2 linked regions of the Homo sapiens genome follow. The protein of the gene in region 2 purifies or fractionates together with the protein of the main gene of each other region. This does not show direct contact. Each region holds a gene or a part of one and is shown on either strand. Other genes may lie near its edges.

Evidence for each region.
Region 1: the proteins of CCDC83 (region 2) and PPID purify together in Homo sapiens (affinity purification with mass spectrometry; 2 studies listed by BioGRID and IntAct, with this or other methods). This does not show direct contact.

The regions. Positions count from the first base shown.
Region 1 is NC_000004.12:158,715,493-158,731,199, forward strand, and holds the start of PPID (peptidyl-prolyl cis-trans isomerase D), read right to left. Parts: upstream 7,905-15,707; 5' UTR 7,797-7,904; coding exon 7,712-7,796; intron 5,992-7,711; coding exon 5,851-5,991; intron 3,795-5,850; coding exon 3,688-3,794; intron 1,709-3,687; coding exon 1,520-1,708; intron 193-1,519; coding exon 70-192; intron 1-69. UniProt on the Homo sapiens protein: PPIase that catalyzes the cis-trans isomerization of proline imidic peptide bonds in oligopeptides and may therefore assist protein folding. Proposed to act as a co-chaperone in HSP90 complexes such as in unligated steroid receptors heterocomplexes.
Region 2 is NC_000011.10:85,846,999-85,862,518, forward strand, and holds the start of CCDC83 (coiled-coil domain-containing protein 83), read left to right. Parts: upstream 1-8,384; 5' UTR 8,385-8,586; intron 8,587-8,666; exon of another isoform or gene 8,667-8,753; intron 8,754-9,283; exon of another isoform or gene 9,284-9,342; intron 9,343-15,520.

The sequences.
Region 1 (15,707 bases), on a different chromosome or scaffold from region 2:
CAAACTTTTAGTACTAAATATTTTCACTTACTAAATTAATTAAAGTTTGACTAATCTGAAAGTACTCACATCTTTTAAATCTATATCCGCATCCTCAGGGAAATCTGGATGACTGTCGCCAGAGCCATCTTTTGGGAATATTCCCCCGTCATCTCCTTCCTTCAATTCTCCACATTCTGCAATAACGCACAACTGTAAAAATAACCCTAAATTGTAGAAGTGCACTATCGTAATAATGAGAGATAAAAGCTATACAGCTGAAGTCATGTGCAGCACTGTCCAATTCACAGATTTATGTGAGAAGGCTCATTTATGTACTATAATGCTGTTTTTATACATTCCAACTAATACGACAATGTTAGTATTTACATAAGCATTTTATTGCTATTCAGGAGCTCAATAAACACAGAATAAGTTGGCAATTTTATCATTGTCTATGTAAGTGGCATTAGGTGGGGCATGAGCTTCCGGTTTACTACTATTCTTGTCATACACTGAGTGACAGCCTACCTCCTACAAGTAACTGAGCTTCCAACTCCCACTCACAACCCTGTCACTTAGGCTGGGTAGTATTATGGTCGTTTAGGGGTTTTTCTTTTTTTCTTTTTTTTTTAATAGAGACAGCATCTCACTATGTTGCCAAAGCTGGTTTCCAACTCCTGGTCTCAAGTGATCCTCCCACCTCAGCCTCCCAAAGTGCTGGGATTACAAGCATGAGCTACCATGCCCAGCCAATATTAAGGTCATTTTGATTCACAGACATTAAGTACACAAGGGTCTTCAGAGATAATCTAGTCTAAACCCATAAGTAATTTAGACAGGAGAAAACACGTGTGGAAAAGTTAAGTAACAAAGTCAAGGCCAAGCCTCTAGTTAATGCTACAATCCAGACAAGATTTTGGGCTTATTATCCTCATTCCACTATGTACTACTATACATACCAACTGAACAGTTTTGCAGGTATAGGAAGACTTAACGTAAACTAGCAAAGATCACCAAATGAAAGTTGAAATAATAAAAATCTCCTTTAAAACTACCCTAATTGTCTTTCCCATTGTAGAAAAGTTAAAAAAAAAAAAAAAAAGTGGCAGATCCTGGCTCCTATACCCAAAATTATTATAACATTTTTCCAGCTAATAATCACCTGATCCTTTTACTTATATTTCTTTAAGATAGCAACTAACAGGCTGGGTGCGGTGGCTCATGCCTGTAATCCCAGCACTTTGGGAGGCCGAGGTGGGCGGATCACAAGGTCAGGAGTTTGAGACCAGCCTGGCCAACATGGTGAAACCCCGTCTCTATTAAAAATACAGAAAAAATTAGCCGGGTGTTGTAGCGCGCGCCTGTAATCCCTGCTACTCAGAAGGCTGAGGCAGGAGAATAGCTTGAACCTGGGAGACAGAGGCTGCAGTGAGCCGAGACCGCACCACTGCACTCCAGCCTGGAACAGATCGAGACTCCGTCTCAAAAAGATAGCAACTAAGATAATAAGTGTATTTCACTGTAACTTTTTACTTACTTTAGCAGGTTTTTCACCTTTCACTTCCACATTTTCCAATATCCTTGCCACTCCTATTCCTTTAATTACTTGGCCAAACACCACATGTTTCCCATCCAAATGAGGAGTTGGAACTGTTGTGATAAAAAACTGAGAACCGTTTGTGTTGCGGCCTGCATTTGCCATGCTCAGTAAACCCTCCCGATCATGCTGTAGAAATAAAAATTAAAAGAAAACCAAGGTTAGATGTGTTCTTTTCTGAATTGTGTGTTAGTCTGAACTGTTCTTTTACTGAACATAAAACTGGGGTGCACTATACTACCATTTAGATCAAACTACTTTTTTTTACTTTTCACTTATAAAATTTTTTAATTACTTTTTATTTTTTTATAAACTGCAACCTTTAATTCACAAAACATGGGGCACTTAATCACTTTAAACTTTAAAAAACCTTATCAAAGTAAATAGGTAACAGAAACAATAGTCGGGGGGAGGGTTATTTCTAAATTGGCCATGAGAAAATACTTACACTTCACCTTTAAAATGAAGATGCAGCATTATGAAACTCTTGTAATATATTTTGCCCTCTTTATGATGAATGCTCTTTTTTTCTGGGAAGACCTGAACGGTCTTCCAAATTCATAAATATGCCTACAGTATAAGTCTTCCTTTACAAAACATCAATAAACTGGAACAATAATGGGATACTGAATTTACCCAAGACATTCAGTTTGGTACTTTCCTAATCTCAAAAGAATCCAAATCATACAGGATTTGGATTAGGTTTTCATCCCAGATGAATCACCTCTTCGGAGAGTGCTCAAAAGAAACTGCTGCATACATCTTGAAATCAAAATTCTACCTTGGCATAATCCTGTCAAAGGATCTATGAAACCCAATTTCTTAACCTTTTCACTTTATCTCCTAGGCTTTCTAAATGTATTCCTTGTTGGTGCATGCACCGTAACTCTCATGTTATATAATGTTTCATGACACCCCCCACCCCACCAAAATGCCTTTTACTCCCCTCAGTCTAAATCAAATTCAGATTTTAAGGCCACCACGTTTATAGAAAGCAAGAATCATGTGTCTTGTCTATAGGCCCCTTTTCTCTATGTCAATGTGATCATCACATCACCTTTAGTTTTCATCCTTCTGGTAGCTTCCTTTGGTACAACAGTAACTAGAACTTTATTTCCTCAACGTCTCTTGCCTTTGTCTTTCCTCACCGACGTCCCTTTTTAAATTCTGCATCAATACTACAGTTCCTGCCTAACCAAATCTCAGACATGTTGCCGCCTTGCAAGACCCAGTCTGCACAGCCCAAGTAGCCATTCCTCCTCAATGACTTCCATAATAATTCAGACTGCATAAATCACATCTTTCTCCTGCAGTATATAGACAGTATTAGCAATGTTATACAAGCAAGGATATTCAATCAATTTAGCATTTATTTATATACTATTATTCTCCAGTAGTCCCATGTATCTTAATCTTGTCTCTGAGGTAGGATTATAAATTCCTTGTCATCAAGGCCTTTCATTTTTATAAACCCTTTGGTGCCAGTGATAGTGGCTCAATAAACACTGACTGGAAGACTGACGACATTTTTTCAAATTATCCTAATACCCTTGCTCATATTCCTTATTTCCAAAAATATCACTTTACTTTTGTACTTACATGTCCATTCTTATAACTTGAATGATGCAATATACCCCAATTACATCTTGGGACAACGAAGACAAGAAGGCACAGGCACCACTGAAGTCCTTTAGGAGCTTGGACATTTAACTATATCTGCTAGTGTGCAAATCCCCTGACATCCTGGATATTAGTGATGGTTTTGTTGCTCTTCAAATTCAAGGATAAGGATGCACAAGTTACCATCCTTCCAACAATGGAAACATTTTTCCTGGAAACAATTTTGCCAGATGCTGGTCGCATTTAAAAACTCACTGGCTTAACTGAAGCATATAAAAACTGGATCACAATGAAATAATGCTGAATTAATCATTACTGAATGAAAACTTTTCCATATTAAAGAACCATTATTTACAAAAGTGATTCCTATTACAAGAAATGGAGAATCTAAGCACACTTGAAACATTTTTTGGTGTCTTAATCCAACAAGTATTCCAGATATATAACAATCTTTTTATCAGCAATAACATGCATTTTCTCTACTTTACCTTGTAATGGAAATTTTCATCTTCAAATTTTTCACCATAAATACTTTCTCCACCTGTCCCATTCTGATTTGAGAAGTCTCCACCCTGAATCATAAATTTCTTAATAACTACAAAAAAGGAAAATGGCTATTAGTGACTGAGACATGGATGCCTTTAGCAATGCTTACTAATGGATACGTACGTAAGACAACTTTGTAGTGCATGACTCTAGTCATGTCTCTCTCCTGTTTGTCGCTCCCCACCCGTCTCCGCAACTCCAAACGCTTCAGGCTTTTCACCATCTGAATCCAACCTATTTTCACTGCCTGATCCCTGCTAACATTCAGAAAATCGGTTCAAATGATACCTCCCCTATAAAACTGTCACTGAAATCCCTAAGCTGTATGTCCTAATTTTTCTCCCATAGTATCTTGACTCTGCCTACATAACATATGGCATTATGATCTGCCCCTTCCAGCAATGATCTCCTTAAGTACACCAACTGTATTGTTTTACATCCTTATAACTATGTGCATGTACACATAGTACATATTAGTTACTCAATAATGTCTGCTGAATACAGACCAATGATTCCCAGTAGATTTGTTCTACCCTAATGGAAAATTTTCAGCAAATATATCACTTTGTGTCAAAGGTTACCAAGATTGCTTTCATGTTCAGAGAACCCTAGAGCTCACACAAATCAGTATGTGGTTGGATCACAGTGGTAAGGATACACAGCGAGATGACGGGAAAGACACAGGCAGAGTCTGGAAAAATCCATGTGCAGGCTTCCTTATGCTTTCTCCGTCCCATGAAGTGCTACAGAACACACACTTCCCCCAGCAACAAAAATGCAGCAACATGTACACAGTATTTCTGCCCAGGAGAGCCAATTAGAGACTCAGCACCCAAGGTATTTATTGGGCACACTCTACCTAGCATGTACCAAAATTCCAGACTCCCCAAAAGAGAGCACACATTCATGTTTGTACAAATAGGCTAGGCATAGTAAATCACCATTACTATTTAGGAAATGGTACAAGTGTCAAGTTCCCAGACTCCAAACAAGTGCTACTCTTGCAGGCAGACCTTTCTAAAGATAGCAGTCTCACACTTGCTATGTTAAATATTTTCTGCATATAGTTTATTAGCATATTTCAAGTTTTTATTAAACATGAAAGTAAACATTTTAAATATTTTTTAAAAAGTTAATTTTTTCTTAATAAATCGTTTAAAAAATGTTGCTCTTGTGATTATTGCTTATTTGCCTATTTATTAAACAAATACTTACTGAGTTCTTACTCAATAACTGTATTAGATGCCAAAAACAAAATGGTGAAAACATACAGTTCTTGAACTCATAGAGCCTGCAGTCTATTGGGAGAACCATTATCACTAAACAAAAGTATGATTCATTACAAAGTGTAATAAGCAGTATGAAATGGCATATTTTGACCACACTATCACCCATGTGCCCAAAACACTGAATCTTCAAATCTGCTGCCTTCCCAAGCACTCAGGCCCAAAAATTATGCATTTTTTTGTTTGTTTGTTTGTTTGTTTGTTTGTTTGAGGCAGAGTCTCACTCTGTCGCCCAGGATGGAGTGCAGTGGCGTGATCTCGGCTCACTGCAAGCTCCACCTTCTGAGTTCATGCCATTCTACTGCCTCAGCCTCCCGAGTAGCTGGGACTACAGGCGCCCACCATCACACCCGGCTTATTTTTTGTATTTTTAGTAGAGACGGGGTTTCACCGCGTTAGCCAAGATGGTCTCGATCTCCTGATCTCGTGATTCACCCGCCTCAGCCTCCCAAAGTGCTGGGATTACAGGCGTGAGCCACTGCGCCCGGTCTATGCATAACTTTTTTGTCACCAGGCAATGAAGCTACCTAAGGTTGGTTGACTACGGCCTTCCTTTCTCAATCAAATCATCTTAGAGTGAAGGAGAATGAGAGGATGGGTAAAGCTAGGGGAGTCCATTTCTCTATAGATAAACCTTAGTACCATAAGTAATTCCACCTCGCACAGCCTAACCTTTACGAAACTGCGTTACTGCCTCAGACATGGACGCTAATAGTACTTTTTAAGCTTCACTTCCTACTTAGTGTTTTCTTCCCCAAATCCTAAAGAACAGGACTTGTCTGTATGAAGAATAACAAGATTAAGAAAATTTACACATACTTCGATGAAAAGGGCATCCTTTGAAATGGAGAGGTTTCCCAGTCGTGTGTCCAATGCCTTTTTCTCCTGTACACAGTGCACGAAAATTTTCCGCAGTTTTGGGTACGATATCTGCAAACAATTCTAAGACAATTCGACCAACTAAAAGAAAAGAAAATCTTGTCAGTATGCAAAACAACCAAATAGACAAATGATAAAAAGAAGGTTGGTATAATTATGGTAGCAGATCAATCATGAATTACCAAGTTCCCCTTTACTGTAATTTTTCTTTTTTGCAATTTCAAGAACACAACACATTGCTACTAACTATAGTCATTATGTTATACAATAGATCTCTTAAATTTATTCCCCCTTTCTAACTGAAATTAGGTCTCTCGTGATCAACATCTACCCAACCCCTGAAATCCACCATTCCATTCTCTACTTCAAGGTCAACTTTTTAGAAACCACATGTAAGTGAGATCATGCCTTGTCTTCCTGTGCCCAGCTTATTTCATGTAACATAATGTCCTCCATATTAATTCATGTTGTCAGAAGTGACAAGATTTCATTATTTTTTATGGGTGAATAGTACTCCACTGTGCACATATATCAAATTTTAAAAAAAATCCATCTGTAGATGGAAACCTAGTTTGATTCCATTATCTTGGCTATCATGAATAATGCTGCAATGAACATGGGAGTGCAGATACCTCTTTGACATACAAACTTCATTTCCTTTGAATATACTCACTAGAATTAGTGAATCTTATTTTATTCTAATATTCAAATTTAGTCTACCTACTGTCATGTATGTATATAAACAGATTTGAAACATTACACTAAGGATCATAACCAATTATAGTAGCCAAAAGATTAGCACCATGTAAGAGATATCATTAAATACAAATAGTTTTAAATCCTGAGTAATTTCTTCAAGAGGTACTGAGAATTTCCAATCACCAAGCAACCAACGGGAGAAAATTAAACAGTCTTTGGGTGGGCGGACTTGCCACGTGTTACGTATACCTGCAGCCTTTGTGCTCTGAGCAAACTGCCTCATGCAACCTCTGAAGCAAAAGCTGTAAAAATTCCTCCTCTAGATAGCAGCTAAGACAGGTGAGATTAAACCTAGCCCTAGCTAGTTGCAACAAACTGAATGTACGTGTAAACGTGTGTGTGTCCTGTACATGCATTCAAACACATTGCCTGGCCAGCAATTCCAACGTGTTCCAGAACAAGGCCAATCCAGTTACAAAGCAACACGCTCCCTAATTCACCAGGCCTTAGGAACTTCTGAGCGGCTATGTAACCTAGGCAACACCATCACTACGTTGAGCGCATTTTCCCAATGGCAAATTAAGAGAAAATGTTTGCTCATCTGAACGGACCTCTAAATTAAGAATCAGTAATAAGGCAAAAGCAATGAGCAAACAAGTCCCTTTAACGTATAAATAACACAGCACGTGCTGATATATTATCTCATGTGGCAAATATAGTTTCCTGGGGCCCAGCAGACGCATATCCCAGGATATGCTTTCCGAACTGTCCCATTGCAAACATAAAATATTTCATGCTAACTTGGTAGTGCAAAGGTGGCGTGGAAGTGCCACCAAATCAGGAGGCAAACCTAAAGGACGCCACAATTCCCGAACTAGAAATTTCCAGAAACTTCCGCACCACCGATGGCATTGATACAAGGGCGCTGGATCGATCTAGCCCTAGATCTCCGGGCCTGCTCCGGCGGACCAGCCTAGGCAGCCATCCCCTCCGCGAAACTGAGCAGTCACCGGCCGGAGCCGCATTCCGCCCTTGGAATCCCCCAAATCCCGGGAACCCCCGCCTCCTCGGGGCTTTTCCGCGAGCGTCAGACTCCGCTCACCTCGCTCCCCTCCGATGTCCACGTCAAAGAAGACTCGAGGGTTACTGGGGTTGGAGGGCTTGGCTTGGGGGGACGGGTGCGACATCTTGACTTGCAGACGTGTTTAGTACGGAATATCAGAGTACCTAGTGGCCGCCCGGGCCGCCCAAACTCCAGAGTCCGTCTCCGCCGGAGACCGGCAGCGACGCTGACCGGCCACTTCCGACGCAAGAACCGGAAGCCATGGCCTGACTTCCGGCACCGCCCCGCTCCCCCGCGCGGTGTTTCAAAGAGCCTGAGCGACTCCGTGCAGCGAACCGCGTGCCCTCCGCCACCTGTTCCTGGCTTCTCATTTAATGAAGTTGCGATCCCAGTTCTCATTATTCTTCTCGCTTGTGTTTCGTTGTCTTTCCCACCCTCGTGGCGTAGAGAGCTTTGGAGTCAACCCCATGCCAGCGTCAGCTCTGCCACCAAGTTGGGTGTGACTTCTCAGAAACTCAGTTTGCTCCTCTGGAAAAAGAATAAAAACGCTGACCTCGGAAGGTCGTTTTGAGGATTAAAGACATGAATCAGTACAATGCCTGGCATAAACTGGTGGTACCCAACCAATAGGAGCCTTATTATTGCCATGTCGTTACAATTTGATCTTCACATTACAATGTAAGTGGTAAGGCTTAGACTAAACGCTCCAAACAGCTAAAGCTGAGAGTCCAGAAGAGAGCACAGTTTTGATTCCTGATAAAACTGTATTTGGCGGGGCGCGGTGGCTCACGCCTGTAGTCCCAGCACATTGGGAGGCCGAGGCGGGCGGATCATTTGAGGTCAGGAGTTCGAGACCAGCCTGACCAACATGATGAAACCCGTCTCTACTAAAAATAAAAAAAAAAAAAATCACCCGGGCGTGGTGGTGCTTGCCTGTAGTCCCAGCTACTCGGGAGGCTGAGGCAGGAGAATCGCTTGAACCCGGGAGGCGGCGGTTGCAGTGAACCGAGATCGCGCCACTGTACTCCAGACTGGGTGACAGAGCGAAACTGTCCCCCCCCCCCCCAAAAAAAAGAAAAACAAAAAAATACTGTATTACTATAGCCCACTTTTCCCTTATGGGGATCTGTGTAAAACATTTACTTTTTACACACACACACACACACACACACACACACACACACACACATATATATGAGGAGAACATAGCCTTGCCTCTTAATAAAGCCTAATTTTGGAGAAGAGTGGCAATTCCCTGTGTAGATGCTTTGCCCTGTAGTTCTATTGGAGCTCAGCAATTTGGATTCAGCCTGAGGCTTACTTTATCAATAAGGCAGGAGATATCCTTAGATGCTTCACATTTTTTTTTCTTATGAGAAAGTAAAAAGTATTGGAATCCAGCACTCAAATAATGTCTCAAAAGCCAGGAGCCTTGTGTCAACAGCAGCAGCCAGAGTGGCTTTTTGGAAGGAAAGACCAGTGCTAATTTTCCCCTATCAGAGCTGTCACCATCCCTCTAGATGAAGGCTCCTGCCCTACTTGCTACCCGGTCTTAGGATAAGTAAAAGTTAGAAGGGTTACGGTTAAAGAACAACTGATTCCTATTCTCAATTTGAATTTGCCTGTGATGTTATACACTGGACTAAGCACGAAAGTTGATGTTAAAAAAGAAAAAAAAAAAAGCAAAAGCTTCAAGTTCTGACTACATGTATACTAGGCATGTTACCAAAGAAAAGTCATTTAATTTCTCTGAACCCTTCTCATTTCCTTTTCGGTAAAGTGCCAAAGAACAGGGTATGAGAATGGAAAAAGATAATGTGTAAGCATTTGCCTTGTAATCTCTAAAGCATTCTTATACACTCTTTTTTAAATTACTGAAAATTAGATGCTATAGTGCCTGAAGTTGTTTTAAAATAACCTGGAGTCAGGTAAGTGGGTTGGGTTGTGGATGAAACATAAGGGCCAGGCAGATGATTGGTGCATGGGAGTTTATTATACTACTCTTCTTTATTTTGCACATTTAAATTTTTTCATAATATTTTAAAAAGTAAAAGAGAAATTACATGTATTACTAGCTACTCATAATAAAACCAATTTGTTGGCCGGGTGTGATGGCTCACGCCTGTAATCCCAGCACTTTGGGAGGCCAAGGTGGGTGGAAGGCTTGAGCCCAGGAGTTCAAGACCAGCCCAGACAACATGGTGAAACCTCATCTCTACAAAAAATATTTTCTAAACAATAAATAAATAAATAATAAAACCAATTTATAGAGTCGTTTTTAATTAAAATACCAACATACCTTTTGTGAAAAAATAAATAATAGGTGTCGGTGAAATTTTAGGACAAATCAGTAAGGATATTATATTGATTGAATTTTTCTGTGTAATCACAAATTTGCCTTATTAACAAAATGCATACATACATAGGCATGTCCACATAGATACTCAGCAAAAGTTGATTCAATTATATGACAAATATTTAGCTCTTACTGTATGCCAGCCTCCATTCTGAGTGCTGATGATACAATGATGAAAAAACATATTCCTTATCCTTTTTTTTTTTTTTTTTTTTTTTTTGAGACAGGGTCTTGTGCTATCACCCAGGCTGGAGTGCAGTGGTGCAATCACAGCTCACAGTAGCCTCAACCTCCTGGACCCAAGTGATCTTCCCACCTCAGCCTCTTGAGTAGCTGGGACTACAGGCACATGCCGCCATGCCCAGGTAATTTTTTTTTTTAATTTTTAAGTGTAATTCAAAATGATTTCCTATCAGATTTCCTTGCTGATCCTTTCAAATTCCAGCACATTAAAGTTAATACAAAATGTTAATTTCTTATGTTCTCCAATTCCTGGTGTTTATTCATGGTATTTATTCATGGTGGTTCCCTGAAGATCCAGGACGGCTCAGAACAAAACTCCTGTGTCTCTTGATAAACAAGAGCATCAAAATCATTCATTAATCCAGTCTCATGTCTGGGCTGCAAACTGATAACTTATATTTTGTCTCATATATATCACAATAAGTTCACATTAACATTTTTATTCTGATCTACTAGCTTAAATTTAACATTTTAGTAGAGATGGGGTTTCGCCATGTTGCCCAGGCTGGTCTTGAACTCCTGGGTTCAAGCAATCTGCCCACCTTGGCCTCCAAAAGCATTGCAGGCATGAGCCACCACGCCTGGCCCCTTATCCTTAACTACACAAATTATACAGTCTTATGGGGGAGAAAGACTATTGAATAAACCTCTACAATGCAATATAATTAGTGTTTTAATAGGAAAAAGACAATCACATTCAGCACACAGCAGGGGCACTGAACACAGTAGCCTTTTCTAAGGTCAGAAATATGAGTAAGATCAGTCACAGGAGCATATGTGGCAAGGAAGACAGGTAAGGAGGGAACAGGTAAAGAGCATCTTCAAAGGAGGGGAACTATATATACTTATAAAGTGAAAATGGGCAACGAGAATGTTATTTCTCCATGAGAAGCCAGTTTTTTAGATAGTGCTGCTACTTCAGGTGGGTGTGGACCACTTGTGTATTAGTCCATTTTTCACACTGCTATAAAGGAATACCCGAGACTGTGTAATTCATAAAGGAAAGAGGTTTAATTGACTCACAGTTCCACATGACTAAGGAGGCCTCAGGAAACTTACAATCATGGCAGAAGGTGAAGGGGAAGCACACTTGGACCTTCCCACGTGGTGGCACGAGATAGAAGAGTGAGGAGCGAAGGGGAACAACCTCTTATAAAACCATCAGATCGCATGAGAACTCACTCACTATCACAAGAACAGCATGGGGGAAACCACCTCCATGATCCGATCTCCCTAGACACCTGGAGTCTCTCCCTAGACACATGGGGATTATGGGGATTACAGTTCAAGATGAGATTTGGGTTGGGACCTAACCATATCAACTGGTTTCAATGTTGAAATCAGAAGTCATGCTTTGGTTTGTATTTTTGTCCAGCTCCTTCAGATTGAGTTTTCAAAATGAGTAACAGTTTTATAACCTAGCCCATTTTATCCCTGAAATAGAAAGGAAAAAGAACACTAAGAGGAGCAAACTCAAAGATACCCCTAATTTACCTTTCCATAGCACTTATAACTTTGTAATATACTGTTTACTTACTTATTTCACATACTCATTAAAAATCAGCTCCTTGGGAATGATAGATAGTAAGAGGAGTTTAAAAAAACAAAATTTAGCTCCACAAGGACAAGAACCTTTGTTTTTTTCATTACTCTATCCCCAGCACTTCTAACAGTGCCTGACACATAGTAGGTGCTCAGTAAATATTTTTGAATGAATGAATTATACAAAATACTAATGGCTTTGAGAATTTTATGAAACAATGTTAACAAGAAATTTTATTTCCATGCCTTTAAGTGTAATTCAAAATGATTCTGTGTATCAGATTTTCATGCTGATCCTTCCAAATTCCAGCACATTAACATAAATATAAAATGTTAATTTCTTATGTTCTCCAATTCCTGGTGTTTATTCACGGTATTTATTCATGGTGGTTCCCTGAAGACCCAGGACGGCTCAGAACAAAACTTCTGTATCCCTTGATAAACTAGAGCATCAAAATCATTCACTAATCCAGTTTCATGTCTTGGCTGCAAACTGGTAACTTTGTCTCACATATATCACAATAAGTTCACATTAACATTTTTATTCTGATCTACTAGCTTAAATTTAACATTTTATTACAAGAATTGACACCCATATGCCATAGCCTCTCAACCATTATTATCATGATGAATATACTTAGGTAGGCATATCTTCTCTGCCATCAGAATTCTGGGGTTCACATTCAGTCTGTAACACATCATATTTTGTGCCTTTGGACGAGTTACTTAGCCTCTTTGTGCCTCACTTTCCTCACCTATAAATCAGAATAATAATATGTATCTCCTAAGGTTATTATGAAGATTAAATGAAAAATATTAAATAAAAGTGTTTTAGTATCTGACACACAGTAAGTACTCAATAAGGGTAAGCAATTACTAACCATAAGTAGCTAATACTTCATTATAATAGTTACATCAACATATTTCAAAATGGATATTAAAACTGCAAAGGAGTTTTGAGGATTCCTTTGCATTCTTACAAGGAAAAAAAAGTGACTCTTTCTGCTCTACTGGTTTCTGGGTGTAAAAGATTAATTCAGATGTTACTCTCACTATGTCTAGGTTTTTCACAGTAAAGCAACAGCTTTATATAAACTGTCATATTCCTAGAACCAAACCAAATAAAAGAATTGTACCTTTCAAAACCACTCAGAACTGGATCTCCAGTGAAAAGATAAACCTTTTCCTAGAAAACACTTGTTCTACTGTCAGTCTGATTACATGGAACAGGACTTCTGAGTTCTGACATCTTGTCTGTGCTTAGCAAGGAAAAGAGCAGAAGAGGCAAAAGCATGCCCCGTTTCTTAGGGTTAACACAGTTTCATCCAGATGGAGTGGGGAGTTTTCCTGATAGCCTTGTTGTTATAATTTCTGCCTGTTGCTCATAAATGTGGTAGAATAATATTAATAGATTGCCTTCCTCCCCAATATTCTCTTTTCTCAATCTCATTGCCCATCACCCCAAACAAGCAGCTAGGCATTCTGTGCTCTTTGCTTTTAAAGAAAGAAGTGACAGCAAAGAAAGCAGAGGGAACAAAGGGAATCTCTTCCTGTCTTTGGTGTTGCAAAAGGCTTGGCTTTACAGAAACAGATAAGACTCTTGGCTATAGCAAAAGATTTGGACAAAACATCTTTTATAAGATCATGGCTTTCCATTCTCAGAAAAAAAATCAAACAAAAAACCCACTTTCTGTGTTGGGAGATGACAAGATTGTGGATGGTGCACAGGGGAAAGTGAGAGAGGAGGCAATGGCAAGGCAGATTTCCACAGTCCCAGAGACAGGGAGTCTTACCATGGTCCCCGTCACATACCTGGGAAGCCACCAAACCTCCATAGATGGGTTTGTGAAATCCAGGAGCAGAGGGACGTGTTCCTTGATTCCTGAACTGTCCCAGGAAGGCAACAGGCCCCAGAAAGAGAACAAGATTCATGGTGTGATTAGGTAGATGGGAACTAGACAGGGTCACAGAGATTTTGTATGCCCTAACTTGAAGTGGAAACAAAACAATATCCCTGTACACCCATGTATGACGTGGAAAAGAAAGGCAGCCTCCACATTTAAAGGGAGCCTGCAGAAGGGAACTCTGAACTCATTAGAGATTTGTAGAACTGATAACTGAGTTAGGATCGTGAATTTCTCACTGGATGCCTGTGTAGGCAGATCACATTGAGAACCAGAGGCTCCAAACCCCCAAATTTGCTGTTATATTAGGCTTTTTTGAATTTAGATCCAACCCCAAGGGAGAGAAAGGAGGAATACCAGAAATAGACACGGATTATGATATTACCAGCCCTTTAAAATAGGCAATTCAGAATTGAATTTCAGCGGAGTTATAGAAAAATAAAGTTGTATTTCATACAGATCTAACTTTATTCCTTTACATGGGCATAGGTTGTAGATCACTGAGGTCCTTACTAGGATCCTGGACAAATTTGAAGTAACATCCAACCTCTTTGTCAAAGATAAGAAATTAGGAAGGATAGCAGAGTTAGAAGAGGAAATTTCAGGATCCTGTCTGTAGAATCAGACTCTGAAACCAAAGATAGAACTCCAAAGAACAGTTTAGCATGTAACTCCTTAAAGAGGAGACGAAATGAATTCTGCCTAGGAAGCACTGGTGTTGATGAGACAGTAACATGTGGGAGAGTTTCCTAACCAAGAATTTCTGCTCTGAACCACATAGAGAAAGTGATGCTTCCACTACAAGAGTCATAATTACAGATCAGAATGAGATAGCAACTCTCAGGTTTTGCCTGCTAAATTTACGAGTATCTAAGGATAACTGTAGGTCTTCTGAGCCAGAACATTGAATAAATGAAAGACGGCAAATGCCACCAGGGGACAGCAGAGTCTCCACCACTGGCAGAAATCATCGCACAGACAGAAGTGGTGCAGTGGACTTAGTGCCTGAGGACTCCCAACGGGACAAGCTTCTTCATCTAGGGGCTGGAAGTGACATGGCAAAAAAGGATATTGATTATTAGTTCACAATAGCACCAGGTAGACAGGGCTTATGTGCAATAAGGAGTAATAGTAAAATCTTTCTGAAGAGCAGTAAGATTATTTTCTTCTCTGCAGAGTAATAGGATTAATGTTTACTGTTTTCAGTTGAAAAAGTGTATTTACCCATATTTGATAGAACAAAACCAGTGATAGACTTGTTCAGTATTTCTTTTCTCTGAAGAAAAAAATGTTACATGAACCTAAAAGAACTTTTAAAACAATGACTTGTGACTATCATAAACAAAAATAGTAATAATTAGCACCTATTGATCATTACTATGTGCCACACTTGTGCCAGGTACTTTACATACTTCATCTTAGTTAGTCCTTAAAATAACTTTGGAATGTAGGTAACTTTATTATCCCATTTTACCTCTGTAATCCTTACAAGGCAAATAAGGGTTAGAGAGGTGAAAAAGTGTTGCCCAATATGATTCTAAAACCACTTCTACCATACACTAGAAAAATATAATCTAACAATCTTGATAGGTTTAAATATTTGTTTTAAAATACCATGATATATAAAGGGCCCCTGAGCTCCTTCTGACATTAATGCTGGAGTTGTTTTATCCCTATATAATTTGGTTTTGAGATATCATAATAAAATGGTTTAGGTTTTTATACCTTTTGTAAGATATTCTAAATTTATAGAATGTGAATAGAGGCAAATAATACATTTTTTCCACAGGAAATAAAAACAATAATAAAACTTCCACCAAATCTCTTTGCATGGAGTGAGAAAGGTTAGAGAATTAGTGCCAATCTTTTGGCATCTCCATGAACTTCCCTAATTCTGTGCAGAGATAGAAGCCAAAAGAAACAAATAGATGTGCAACTAACAGACGCTGGTGTCTCTGAAAAAGGGTTATGCTAAGTAGAAGAGTTTATG
Region 2 (15,520 bases):
GCTGAGATTACAGGCATGAGCCACCGTGCCCAGCCTGAAACCATTTTAAAAAAATTAACTTTGTTAAAGTACAATTTATATACAATAAAATGTACCCATTTTAAATATATAGTTCAATGGGTTTTAACAAATCTATACACCCTTGTAACCACCACCACAATCAAGATACAGAGCATTTCCTTTATTCCGGCAAGTACTCTCCTGCCCCCTTGCAGTCAATCCCACACCCCAGCCCCTGAGCTCAGGGCCATCACTGATCTGCTTCCAGGCTTTTCTAGAATTTCATATGATACAGCATATAGTTTTCACACTTGGCTTCTTCACTTAGCTCAATTCTTTTGAGACCCATCCAGGTTGTTGCATGTATCAATAGTTATTCCCCCCACCCTTTTTTTTTTCATTCCTAAGTGCTGGCAACATTCCTTTTTTTATTAAGTAGTATTACAAGCAGCTATGAACATTCATTTTCATTTGTCTTGAATAAATATCTAAGAGTGGGTTTGCTGGGTCATACAGTATATGTGTTTAACCTTATAAGAGACTGCTAAACTGTTTTCCAAAATGGTTGCACAATTTTGTTTTTCCATCAGGAATATATGAAAGTTCCAGTTACTCCACATCCTTGCCAACACATGGTATTGTCAGTCTTTTAGGGTTAGCCATTCCAGTAGGTGTGTAGTAGTATCTCACTGTGGTTTCAATTTGCATTTGCCTGATAACTAATGATATTGAGCATCTTTTCATGTGCCAATTGGCCATGAATATATCTATTTTTTGGAGCATCTATTCAAATCTTTTGGCATTTGTAATTAGTTGGTTTTTTTCCTATTGAGCTTGAGGAATTATTTATAAATTCTAGATCCCAGTCTTCTGGCAGGTATATGTATTGCAAACGTTTTCTTCCAGACTGTGGCTTGCCTTTTCATCTTCTTAAAACTAAAGAACAGCCTGGGCATGGTGGCTCACACCTATGATCCCAGCACTTTGGGAGGCTAAGGCGGGAGAATCGCCTCAGGTTGGGTGTTTGAGACCAGCCTAGGCAACAAGACAAGACCCCCATCTCTACAAAAAATAAAATAAAAAACTAAAAAATCAGTTGAGCATGGTGGCACGTGCCTGTGGTCCCAGCTACTTGGTAGGCTGAGGCAGGAGGATCACTTAAGCTTGAGAGTTTGAGGCTACAACGAGCCATTTCCATACTGCTGCATTCCAGCCTGGTGACAGAGCAAGACCCTGACTCAAAAAACAAACAAACCAAAAAAAGAAAAAAGAAAAAAAAAAAACCAAACCCTCAAGAGCAGATATTTTAAATTTAAATTTGATGAAGTTCAAGTTCTTTTTTTCTTTTTTGAATCATGTTTTTTGTGTCCTATATAACACTTGGCTGATGCAAAGTCAAAAAGATTTTTTGTCTTATTCTAGAAATTTTATAGTTTTCACCTTTATGATTCATTTTGAGTTAATTTTTTGTATGGTTTTTGGTCTGAGTGAAGCTTCATTTTTTTTTTCCAAATAGATATCCAATAGTTACAGTCACATTTGTTCAAAAGATTATGCTTTGCTTATCGAGTTACTTTTACAATTTTGTCTGAAGCAATTGATCCTATATGTACAAGTATGTTTCTTGATTTTTTGTTATATTCTATTGGTCTATATGTTTGTCCTTTTGTGTTCATATTTTAAAACTATAGCAAGCAGGCAGCAATTCATTGTTGCTAAATACTCTTGTGATGTCACATGCTAAAGCCCTCAGGCACAATTCAAATCATATAGTCCAGGTTCCTGGGATAAGAAACCCTGGCTCCAGCTTACTGTCCTGGGCTCCTCTTATATCTGAGAAAACAAAGAGATCATAAGAGTAATTTCAAACATTAATTAGGCAGACGAAGTAAGAAGGAAAAAAAAGACATGTGGTATCTTTTTGCCAGAATTCTGGTTATTTAAGTTAAACTTGGTTTGGAGAGACAAAGAAAAAAAAGTGAACTGCAGGTATGTGCCTCTGGCTTAAAGTGAAAAAATATGACCCTTATAAACAGTGAGACACCATCCCATTTTATAATACAATATTGCAACGTGACAATGGACGTTGGGTTAAAACAATCTCCTTCTTAAAGGTAGCATATACTTTCTTCCTCTTAAGAGAATATTTTCTTGTAAATTTGTTTGAGTTCATTGTAGATTCTGGATATTAGCCCTTTGTCAGATGAGTAGGTTGTGAAAATTTTCTCCCATTTTGGAGGCTGCCTGTTCACTCTGATGGTAGTTTCTTTTGCTGTGCAGAAGCTCTTTAGTTTAATTAGATCCCATTTGTCAATTTTGTCTTTTGTTGCCGTTGCTTTTGGTGTTTTGGACATGAAGTCCTTGCCCATGCCTGTGTCCTGAATGGTAATGCCTAGGTTTTCTTCTAGGGTTTTTATGGTTTTAGGTCTAACGTTTAAGTCTTTAATCCATCTTGAATTGATTTTTGTATAAGGTGTAAGGAAGGGATCAAGTTTCAGCTTTCTACATACGGCTAGCCAGTTTTCCCAGCACCATTAAATAGGGAATCCTTTCCCCATTGCTTGTTTTTCTCAGGTTTGTCAAAGATCAGATAGTTGTAGATATGCGGCGTTATTTCTGAGGGCTCTGTTCTGTTCCATTGATCTATATCTCTGTTTTGGTACCAGTACCATGCTGTTTTGGTTACTGTAGCCTTGTAGTATAGTTTGAAGTCAGGTAGGGTGATGCCTCCAGCTTTGTTCTTTTGGCTTAGGATTGACTTGGCGATGCGGGCTCTTTTTTGGTTCCATATGAACTTTAAAGTAGTTTTTTCCAATTCTGTGAAGAAAGTCATTGGTAGCTTGATGGGGATGGCATTGAATCTGTAAATTACCTTGGGCAGTATGGCCATTTTCACGATATTGATTCTTCCTACCCATGAGCATGGAATGTTCTCCCATTTGTTTGTATCCTCTTTTATTTCGTTGAGCAGTGGTTTGTAGTTCTCCTTGAAGAGGTCCTTCACATCCCTTGTAAGTTGGATTCCTAGGTATTTTATTCTCTTTGAAGCAATTGTGAATGGGAGTTCACTCACGATTTGGCTCTCTGTTTGTCTGTTGTTGGTGTATAAGAATGCTTGTGATTTTTGTACATTGATTTTGTATCCTGAGACTTTGCTGAAGTTGCTTATCAGCTTAAGGAGATTTTGGGCTGAGACAATGGGGTTTTCTAGATATACAATCATGTCGTCTGCAAACAGGGACAATTTGACTTCCTCTTTTCCTAATTGAATACCCTTTATTTCCTTCTCCTGCCTAATTGCCCTGGCCAGAACTTCCAACAAATTTACAAGAAAAAAACAAACAACCCCATCAAAAAGCGGGCAAAGGACATCAACACACACTTCTCAAAAGAAGACATTTATGCAGCCAAAAAACACATGAAAAAATGCTCATCATCACTGGCCATCAGAGAAATGCAAATCAAAACCACTATGAGATACCATCTCACACCAGTTAGAATGGCCATCATTAAAAAGTCAGGAAACAACAGGTGCTGGAGAGGATGTGGAGAAATAGGAACACTTTTACACTGTTGGTGGGACTGTAAACTAGTTCAACCATTGTGGAAGTCAGTGTGGCGATTCCTCAGGGATCTAGAACTAGAAATACCATTTGACCCAGCCATTCCATTACTGGGTATATACCCAAATGACTATAAATCATGCTGCTATAAAGACACATGCACACGTATGTTTATTGCGGCATTATTCACAATAGCAAAGACTTGGAACCAACCCAAATGTCCGACAATGATAGACTGGATTAAGAAAATGTGGCACATATACACCATGGAATACTATGCAGCCATAAAAAATGATGAGTTCATGTCCTTTGTAGGGACATGGATGAAATTGGAAATCATCATTCTCAGTAAACTATCGCAAGAACAAAAAACCAAACACCGCATATTCTCACTCACAGGTGGGAACTGAACAATGAGATCACATGGACACAGGAAGGGGAATATCACACTCTGGGGACTGTGGTGGGGTGGGGGGAGGGGGGAGGGATAGCATCGGGAGACATACCTAATGCTAGATGACGAGTTAGTGGGTGCAGCGCACCAGCATGGCACATGTATACATATGTATCTAACCTGCACCATGTGCACATGTACCCTAAAACTGAAAGTATAATAAAAAAAAAAGAGAATATTTTAGTTCATGATTATTTATTTTTGCAAAACATCTATTTAATTGTTTCAAGTTTGTGAGGAACAAAGTTATTGGACAGGAAGTTGTAGCAAAAATTTTCTATTTCTCAAAAGTAACTGCTGTAGGTAAAATGTCTGATTTACCAAAAGTTTGAACTGGTTCGCAAAGGCAGTAAGTTCATTCCTAGTTCGGGTCTTTACAAATTATTGTGAGATTTAATAATAATAAGACCCTGCAGTTGTTTCTGTTTAGCAATTGCTCATCTCAAACAGGTTCTTTGTGGTTTTTCCAAAAACAGACAGCATATTTGGCTTCTTCTACTATAGATACTTTCCTACGTCTATTTCTACATCATTCAACATGGCAAGGCTAACAGAAAATCAAGGTCAAATGAGGAAACTCAGCAAATGGTTTTTATCTGGCTTCACACTGACCACCAACTGGTAAACACTATAAGAAAAACTGTGCAGGATATAAATGATAGGTAAAAGTACATTTTTTCACTATGGGCCCAGGCTCTCATAATAGAAGCAGGCCTAAGATTTAAAACAAATGATGTGGGAATCAATTCAAAGTGCTGAAGAATCACAAATTGCTTTTCTATTTAACTAAAAAATCTCCATGCTTTAAAAATTTTCCGCTGGTAGCTTTTTCTCCTGAATTTGCACTCTTAATAATTTTATCCTATAATCCCATCTGATGATGTTATTTTAGGGAAAACCAGGTTAACAGAAGAACATTTATCAGATGTGTAGATCATAGCAAATTCCTGGCACTTAATAAACACAATACTGATAGACTAAAGGGAGGTTAAAATGAGGTGGAACACGTAAGTTATCTCTAACAATGATTAATTTTTGTATATTTTACTGATGAGAAAAACTCCTTTAACCAAAAGCTGCTTAATATTTTTATTAACTGCTTCAGTTCCCTTCAAGTTCTTAATACGTTATTAATATAACACAGCATGAATAAAAAATATGATAATCCATTTTTTAAAAAACAAATTCAAGAATGCCAAACAGGTGACTTACGAAGGGAGCAGGGAAGCCTAAAGGGGCCTCATTTCTGTCTTCCTGGGACAAAAGGATAAGTAATTGACTGAAATGTAACTACCAGGACATAGACGCTCCTAGGATGTAAAAGAAAGTTGTCTGCCTCCCCCTCCCCCTCTCCCTCTCCCCACGGTCTCCCTCTCCCTCTCTATCCACAGTCTCCCTCTGATACCCAGCGGAAGCTGGACTGTACTGCTGCCATCTCGGCTCACTGCAACCTCCCTGCCTGATTCTCCCGCCTCAGCCTGCCGAGTGCCTGCGGTTGCAGGCGCGCACCGCCACACCTGACTGGTTTTCGTATTTTTTTTGGTGGAGACGGGGTTTCACGTGTTGGCTGGGCTGATCTCCAGCTCCTAACCGCGAGTGATCTGCCAGCCTCGGCCTCCCGAGGTGCCGGGATTGCAGACGGAGTCTCGTTCACTCAGTGCTCAATGTTGCCCAGGCTGGAGTGCAGTGGCATGATCACGGCTAGCTATAACCTCCACCTCCCAGCCGCCTCCCTTGGCCTCCCAAAGTGCCAAGATTGCAGCCTCTGCCCGGCCGCCACCCCGTCTGGGAAGTGAGGAGTGTTTCTGCCTGGCCGCCCATCGTCTGGGATGTGAGGAGCCCCTCTGCCCGCCTGCCCAGTCTGGGAAGTCAGGAGCACCTCTGCCCGGCCGCGACCCCGTCTGGGAGGTGAGGAGCGTCTCTACCCGGCCGCCCCGTCTGAGAAGTGAGGAGCCCCTCCGCCCAGCAGCCGCCCCGTCTGAGAAGTGAGGAGCCCCTGCGCCCGGCAGCCACCCTGTCTGGGAAGTGAGGAGCGCCTCCGCCCGGCCGCCTCCCCGTCCGGGAGGTCGGGGGCGCCTCTGCCCGGCCGCCCCTTCTGGGAAGCGAGGAGCCCCTCTGCCCGGCCGCCACCCCGTCTGGGAGGCGTACCCAACAGCTCATTGAGAACAGGCCATGATGACAATGGCGGTTTTGTGGAATAGAAAAGGGGGAAATGTGGGGAAAAGATAGAGAAATCAGATTGTTGCCGTGTCTTGAGTAGAAAAAAGTAGACATAGGAGACTCCATTTTGTTCTGTACTAGGAAAGATTCTTCTGCCTTGGGATGCTGTTGATCTATGACCTTGCCCCCAACCCGGTGCTCTCTGAAACATGTGCTGTGTCCACTCAGGGTTAAATGGATTAAGGGCGGTGCAAGATGGGCTTTGTTAAACAGATGCTTGAAGGCAGCATGCTCCTTAAGAGTCATCACCACTCCCTAATCTCAAGTACCCAGGGACACAAACACTGCGGAAGGCCACAGGGTCCTCTGCCTAGGAAAACCAGAGACCTTTGTTCACTTGTTTATCTGCTGACCTTCCCTCCACTATTGTCCTATGACCCTGCCAAATCCCCCTCTGCGAGAAACACCCAAGAATGATCAATAAAAAAAAAAAAAAAAAAGAAGAAAAGAAAAGGGCCCCAAAGTGACGTCAGCCCCATCTCAAATTCAAACCCCATAGTAAACGAACAAGATAGACCTTAACTACTGACTAATTCTCCAAAGCAAAAAGTCAGGAAAATAAAAAAATCTCGTTAAGCTGTAAAAAATAAAAATAAAAATAAAAATACATATCCAGGTACATACTCTTTCTTTCTTTGAGACAGAGGCTCGCTCTGTCACCCGTGCAGTGGCAGTCTCGGCTCACTGAGATCTCAGCCTTCCAGGCTCAAGCAATTCTTCGGCCTCCACCTCCGAAGTAGCTGGGACTACAGGCACTCACCACTATGCCTGGCTAATTTTTCGTAGAGATGGGGTTTCGCCATGTTGCCTACGCTGGTCTCAAACTCCTTACCGCAAGCAATCTGTCCACCTCGGCCTCCCAAACTGCTGAGATTACAGGCGTGAGGGATTGTAGGCGTGAGGGATTACAAGCATGAGCCACCGCGCCCTGCTATATTACTTATTTCTTAAACACCTGCAATTCATTAAAATACACCATGTATAAATTATAAATCATAATATTATCAAGAACTGTTATTTCTAAGTGCTGAATAAATGAATATTTCCACTCATTAAAAAAAAAAAAAGTTGTCCGTTCAAAGCCAGTGTCAAGTACCAAAAAAAGAAAATTATCTTGCGGCAGATAATGAGAAATAATGCAGGAGAGGAAAGAGGAACTTTAAAGGCTGTACGTGTAGGATTTTCTTTTTCTCTCTCGGAGGAAAGAACAGCAAAAAGCGAAGAGTGGGAAATGCTGGACTTAAATTCCTTTCTTTAGGTTTACGAACAAAAAAGGAAAGCGAGAAGAAAAACAGAATCAAGGACTTATACAGCAGGAAGTTGCCCTGTAAGCATTTAGTCCAGGGACCTGCCATTCTTATTAAGAGCTAAAACCAAAGAATTAGTGCACGAAAGTAGAAAGAAGACAAGCCGCCATTGTGGAAGGAGCGCAGCGGGACAGAGGCGCGCAGAAGCCTCACCAGACAACCAGGCCCCGTCCCCGTCCCCCGAACTGTGCGGAAAGCGCCACCGAGTCCAGGCGTCTCATTTTACAGCGGAAGACACAAACTCTGAGATCCAAATGACCTGCTCACGGTCACAGCACGAAGCCCGTGGGCCCTGTGTCTACAGTCACCAACTTCCAGGCTTGCGACTAAAGGGAGCCAACGAGCGCGTGAGCGTTTGAGACCAGCTGGCTGAGGGACGCCGAAAATCCCGCGCGGAGGAAGGCGGGAGAGCGCTACCGCTGCTACCAAGGCGGCGGCGCGGGCGCTCGGCCGGGACCCTTCCCTGCGTCGCCACCAGATGGCGCGCTCGGCCCGCCGTTCGCGGCTAAGCTAGGGCGGGTGGGGAGGGAGTAGGGAGGAGGACGTCGGTTGCCTTGGAAATGCAGGGCGCAGCAGCCGCTGCAGTGGAGCCGGTAGGCCTGGCCGGCGGGCTGAAAGGAAGTGCGAGCTGTCCGCCCAGGGCCGGGTATCCGCCCCTGCAGGCTGTGGAGGGGATGTCAGGAGACTGGCTGGCCTCTTTTCTTGGCCCCCGACTCCTTCCAGTCTGACACTGAAGACTTTATAAGCTTCCCCCCGACCACCCTCCACGGGCTCCACTCTCCACGGGCCTGGGCTTGCGCCGCTTCGAGATCAGCCTGGGGGTCGCGCCCTCCTGGTCTTGTCCACGAAGCGCCGTTCTTGGGCCGTTAGGAGCTGCTGGGAAGGGCTCTGATAGGCCCACTCCTCTTCTCCACCCAGGAGATGAGAAGGAGGGCAGGCCTTTTTAATCTGATCAGAATGTTAACCCATCTCTCCGCCTTGCGGTAGAACCCCTGGATACATTATTTGCCCTCTCGAAAGGCAGGCTCTGAATTTGATTCAGGTTTGTAACCTTCACGGTGCCCTCACACAGCCCCTAGCACACAGCAGACGCAGAGCAGACTAAGAATGCCTTCCATTCTTATGAGGCTTTATCACTTGACAGTTTTCCCAAAGCGTTTGGAGCCTCATAGCCCGGACAGCAACTAGGACAGATGGAGGAGGAAACAGGTCAGAGGTTCAGAGACTTGGCCTAGGTTATACAACTCTGTGCAGGAGCTGGGACTAAGCTCGGTCTTGCTTCTCTTAGTGCCTCTCTCACCAAATTCTGAGTCTAGTGAATGCTTTCTGAGGACCTCACATACTCTTGCATCCTTCTCAATACCAGCGCAATGCTCTTCCGCTGTAGGTACTTCATATGTGCTAAGTGTGTTATTGATGTCTTTTACCCTCATATCCCAATTCATAGATTGGTTTCAACTTCTTGCTCTGGATACTACAACATTCTTCTAAAGAAAACACTTGGTTTCTTTTATGAATTTGTCACATTTGTACAGTGCCATGTTGTTGCCTCACTCCCTTCCTTATCCCATAATTTTCTGCTGGGCAAGAGAGAGAGTTGAGGAAGTGATTAAGAGATGGGAAAAAGTGCCCTATCTAAGCCAAAAAAAAAAAAAAAAAAAGGAAAAGAAAGATTCCTGTGATGACAGAGGGGAAAAATAATGACTGGGTATTTATCAGTCTATGTGATAATTGCTCATGGATTGCCTTACAGCCACCTCCAGAAGATCCTCTTTAGACTCACTACTGCTATTTGAAGGTAGAAAGAAGCCTTTTTGTTCTCTACCATTATTATTGCATATTTTTCCCTTATCCTCATAATAATATTTTCATAGTTATTTTTCTTTTCTTTGTTGATAATTCTAAAACTGAAGGACAGTAAGAGTGGGAAAAAAATGTAGTTCTGGTTACTAGAGAAGTTAGTGTAATATACTGCAGTTCAAACTATTTGATATTAGCAACTCTGGATCAGAAGACGGACTAATTTTAAAGCTAAGACTCCAATATCTTTGGGTACTGCAGTAGAAAAATGTGCCATGACTAAAGGATTGGTGAAGAAAATACATGCTAATGTAATGTACATCATCAGTCGTCCAAGTGAAACTTGAAAATGTCACTCATCTAGATATTTTTAAATACCTTGATTTTAATATATGATTTTAACATATTTCCAAACCGGGCAAATTTTACATTTTAACACTAACAATTTTGGTCCCTATCATATATACATAATCAATATGAAAAGCGGTCTCAATTTTTAAAATTAATGTTTTAGGTGGTACTATTACCACTGAATGGCTTTAAATTAATTCAGGATTTTTAAAAACATTTACTGGAGACCATTTCTAATTAAGTTAAACATGTGTTCTGTGCAATCTCATTTGCAGTAGCCACAAAACGAATAAACTACCTGGGAACCCCCTGCCCAGTGCCATACCCCCAGTGCCTGTCCCCAGATCGAGGCTTGGGCCCCTTCAGCCATGTCTATCACAAGCACCACCAGCATGTCTGACAAACTGCCCTACAAAGTCACTGACATTGGCCTGGACTTCTGGGGATGCAAAGCCCTGGATATTGTGGAGAACCAGATGCCGGGCCTGACGTGCATGTGGGAGCTGTACTCAACCCTCCAAGCCCTCGAAGGGCACGCGCATCACCAGTTGCCTCCATAGGACCCATGGAGATGGCCATCCTCATTGAGACCCTCATTACCCTGGGTGCCAAGCTGCAGTGGTCCAGCTGCAACATCACCCAGGACCATGAGGCAGCTGCCATTGCCAAGGCTGGCATTCCAGTTGTACGCCTGGAAGGGCGAAACAGAGGAGGAGTACCTGTGGTGCACCAAGCAGACATTATACTTCAAAGACGGCCTCCTCAACGTGATTCTGGATGTCGCTTGGGCCCCCACCAACCTCATCCACACCAAGTACCCACAGCTCTTGTCGGGGATGTGAGGCATCTTCAAGGAGACCATGATTGGGGTCCACAAGCTACACAAGATGATGGCCAATGGGATCCTGAAAGTGCCTGCCATCAATGTCAACAACTCCGTCACCAAGAGCAAGTTTGACAACCTCTCCGGCTGCCAGGAGTCCCTCATAGATAGCATCAAGTGGGCCACAGACGTGATGATTGCCAGCAAGGTAGCAGTGGTAGCAGGCTGTGGCGACATGGGCAAAGGCTGTGCCCAGGCCCTGTGGGGTTTCAGGCCCATGTCATCATCATCAAGATCGACCCCATCAACATACTGCAGGCTGCCATGAAGGGCTATGAGGTGGCCACCATAGACGAGGCCTGTCAGGAGGACAACATCTTTGTCACCACCACAGGCTGTGTTAACATCATCCTTGGCTGGCACTTTAAGCAGATGAAGGATGATGCCATCATTTGTAACACTGGACACTTTGACATGGAGATTGATGTCAAGTGGCTCAACAAGAATACTGTGGAGAGAGTCAACATCAAGCCCCAGGTGGACTGGTATCAGCTGAAGAATGCACACCACATCATCCTGCTAGCTGAGGGTCAGCTGGTCAACCTGGGTTGTGCCATGGGCCACCTCAGCTTCTTGATAAGTAACTCCTTCACCAACCAAGTGATGGCGCAGACTGAGCTGCAGACCCACCCAGACAAGTACCAGGTTATGGTTCTCTTCCTGCCCAAGAAGCTGAATGAGGCAATGGCTGAAGCCCACCTGGGCAAGCTGAATGTGAAATTGACCAAGCTGACTGAGCTGCAAGCCCATTACCTGTACTTGTCCCGTGATGGCCCCTTCAAGCCAGATCACTACCACTACTGAAAGCCAGACCTGCCCTTCGCCTTCCAACTGCTGTCCTTGTCCAGGCCCTGCCTCTCCTCCCTAAGAGCAAATGGCACCCACTTTGTGATTGGTTTGTCAGTGTCCCCTATTGACTCCCTGGGGCTGGTCACTCAGTTTTTGGCCTCTGCTGCATCCCTCATACTGTTCCAAGTGTGGCAGGGGGAATTGAGAGGCCCCTCCTCAAGCCTTGGTCATGATAGGGGTACAAGGGAGACAGCCACAGGGAACTATGAATTCAATGATCTTGGAACTTCTCACTAAGTCAGTCCTTCCTTAGCCTGGAAGTTGGTAATGGAGTCACAAAGCCCATATACTTTACCATCTAGGCATTCACCCGGTCTGTGGACTTATACCTGTGTGCTTGGTTCACAGGTTCAGTGGTACCTCAGCCCATGACAGAAAAGCAGCAGCTATATTGAAGGGCAAAGAGGAACTGTTGTTTGAATTTTCCTGAGAGCCTGACTTAGTGCTGGGCCTTCTCTTCCACCTCATAACAATGAGGTTGGTACTTTTAGTCTCTGTTTTATAGGAGTTAGAATAGACTGTTAAGGGACAACTGAGAAAGGACAGAGAATTGATAGCCAGAGGTTGAGAGGGGCCATAAAAACATAAAAGCAAGCATAGATCTGCTACCACTTTGTAACAAGATAATTCCTATCACAACCCTGGGTCAAAAAGAGAATAATCTGGTCCATAATGTTTATGTTAAAAAAAAATAAAAAGCAGGAAGGTGGGTAAATAAAAATCTTGGTGCCTTAAAAAAAAAAAAAAAAAAAAAACCCCTAGGAATACAGCTTACCAAGAAGGTAAATGAGTTCTACAATGAGAATTTCAAAACACTGCTGAAATAAGTCAGAGATGAACACAAACAAATGGAAAAACATTCAATGTCATTTTTCATGGAATTAAACAAAACTATTCTAAAATTCATATGGAACCAAAACAGAGCCCTAATCACCAAATCAACCCCAAACAATAAGAGCAAAGCCAGGGGAATCACACTACCCAACTTCAAACTATATTACAAGGCTACAGTAACCCAAACAACATGGTACTGTTACAAAAACAGACATATAAACTAATGGAACAGGTTAAAGGACCCAGAAATAAAGCCACACACCTACAACTACTGGTTTTGTGACAGAGTCAATGATAACAAACAATGGGGAAAGAACTCCCTATTCAATAAATGGTGCTGGGATAACTGGCTAGCCATATGTGGAAGATTGAAACTGGACCCCTTCCTTTTACCACATACAAAAATTAACTCAAGATGAATTAAATACTTAAATGTAAGACCTAAAACAACAAACACTCTAGAAGAAAACCTAGGAAATACCATTCTGGACATTGGCCTTGGCAAAGAATTTATGACTAAATTCCCAAAAGCAACTGCAACAACAACAAAAAATAGACAAGTGGGACTAATTAAAGAGCTTCTGCACAGCAAAAGAAACTATCAACAGAGTAAACAGACAACCTGCAGAATGGGAGAAAATATTCACAAGCCATGCATCCAACAAAGGTCTAATATCCAGAATCTATAAGGAACTTAATTCAGCAAACAAAAAGCAAATAACCCCATTTAAAAATAAGAGAAGGACAGGCTGGGTGTGGTGGCTCCCGCCTGTAATCCCAGCACTTTGGGAGGCTGAGGCAGTCAGATCACAAGGTCAGGAGATCGAGATAGTCCTGGCTAACACGGTGAAACCCCGACTCTACTAAAAATACAAAACAAATAAATAAATAAATTAGCCAGGCATGGTGGCACGTGCCTGTAGTCCCAGCTACTCGGGAGGCTGAGGCAGGAGAATCACTTGAACCCTGGAGGCAAAGGTTGCAGTGAGCCGAGATTGTGCCACTGCACTCCAGCCTGGGCAACAGAGTGAGACTCCGTCTCAAAAAAAAAAAAAAAAAAAAAGAAGGCAAAGAACATGAACAGATACTTTTCAAAAGAAAACATACATGTGGCCAACAAATATATGAAAAAATGCTCATCATCACTAATCATTAGATAAATGCAGATCAAAACCATGATAAGATACTATCACACAGGAATCACAATGGTAATTATTAAAAAGACAAAAAACAACAGATGCTGGTGAGGTTTAGCAGAAAAGGGAACACTTATACACTGCTGGTGGGAGTATTAAAGAACACGTGGAAAGCAGTGTGAAGATTTCTCAAAGAACTTAAAACAGAAATACCATTCAACCCAGCAATCTCGCTACTGGATATATACCCTAAGGAAAATAAATCATTCTGTGAAACAGACACATGGACTCATGTTCATCGCAGCACTGTTCACAGTAGCAAACACATAAAATCAACCAAGATGCTAATCAGTGGTGGACTAGATAAAGAAAATGTGGTACACATACACCATGGAATGCTACACAGCCATAAAAAGAACAAAATCGTGTCCTTTGTAGCAACATGGATGCAGCTGGAGGCCATTATCCTAAGCAAACTAATGCAAGAACCCAAAAGCAATACTGCATGTTCTCACTATAAGTGCAAGCTAAACATTGAATAAACATGAACACAAAGATGGGAAAAATAGACACTGTCTATTACAAGCCATAAATTGTGGGGAAAAAAAAAAGTACAAATTGTGGGGCCACAAGGCGAGGTTATTTATCACTAGTTAGGACAATAAGAAGAGGCTTCTCAAGATGAATTTAAATATTAAAGGATACAACATCTCTTTTTGAATTCCCAAGATGAGGGTTTATAGAAGTAGTTAGGTGTCACTGGCATTAAAGGAATTGTATTTTGTTGAAGATGAGTACCATGAATGGTTTTGAATATGTATTTCAGCTTTGCAATTAACATTATAGTGAGGTATGTGCCTTCTAAGTTAGATTGCTCTTTAATAAGGCTTTTGGAAGTACTGCATTACTACTACTACTATTACTTTTATTAGCCTTACAGTTTATAGCTGAGAATCCAGTATAATTTGGGAACTGCAGTTCAAAACCATGCAGTTAATGGCTCAGTTTCTAGCTAGTTAATGGCTGAGCCACAACTAGACTTCAAGACTCCTAGCACCCAAATAGAGATCTTTTATATCATGCACTCATGCCTTGATGGAATCTTATTCTGAACTTCTGTCATTGCTAATGCTGTTAAGTAAATATCTTTCATTTTAATCTACATTGTATGTAAAACATTAGCTATCAAACCTCAAACTCCATTTTATATGTCCAGAAAGGTATTAGGGCAGAACTGCCATCCCTCCCAGCCTCCACAGAATTAGGAAAGGAGTCATTGGGAGGCTTCTGGATATTCACGCCTTCACAAAGTCATTAAAATAGTCATTTTGGGCCAAGTGCGGTGGCTCATGCCTGTAATCCTAGCACTTTGGGAGGCCAAAGTGGGTGGATCCCTTGAGCTCAGGAGTTCAAGACCATCCTGAGAAACATGGCAAAACCCCCTCTTTACAAAAAATTAAAAAATTAGCCAGGCATGGTAGCATGCGCCTGTAATCCCAGCTACTCTGGAGGTGATGTGGGAGGATGACTTGCACCTGGGAGGCAGAAGTTGGAATGACCCTGCATTTTTAGCTTGGGCGACGGAGCCAGACCCTGTCTCATTAAAAAAAAAAAAAAAAAAAAAAAGAGAGTCATTTATTTTAAGCTTTCTAGATACTGAGCCAGGATGCTGAGATAGTGCAGGAAGGGATACACTGTGTGTTCTATAGGTAACTTTGCAGAGCCAAAGCAGTATGGGATAACTACATATGAAAAAAATGATTGTGATATGTCCATTTTTAGTAAATAAACTTCTGGCTTTTCACTGAGAGGCGTTTGGGAAATATTTATTGCAAGATTTTATGACAGAAAATGATGGAGTAGATTCTGGAAAGGTTGGCTGGAGTCCTGAGTCTTTCAAACCCAGGATGCTCACCTGTCCTTACATCACGGTGTATGTTTTAGAGACCTCAGACACAGTCGGGAGAGGAAAACACACATGGCCACAAAAGGGAGGTCACATGCTGGATGAAGATCTCCCTAGCATTATCTGCATGATTTTGCAATGAATTTTAAAGCTGCTCATTTTTTTAAAGTTCTGCTGCAGTGTGCTTCTGTCTTCCTATCTGTCTGAGAAGGGTCTT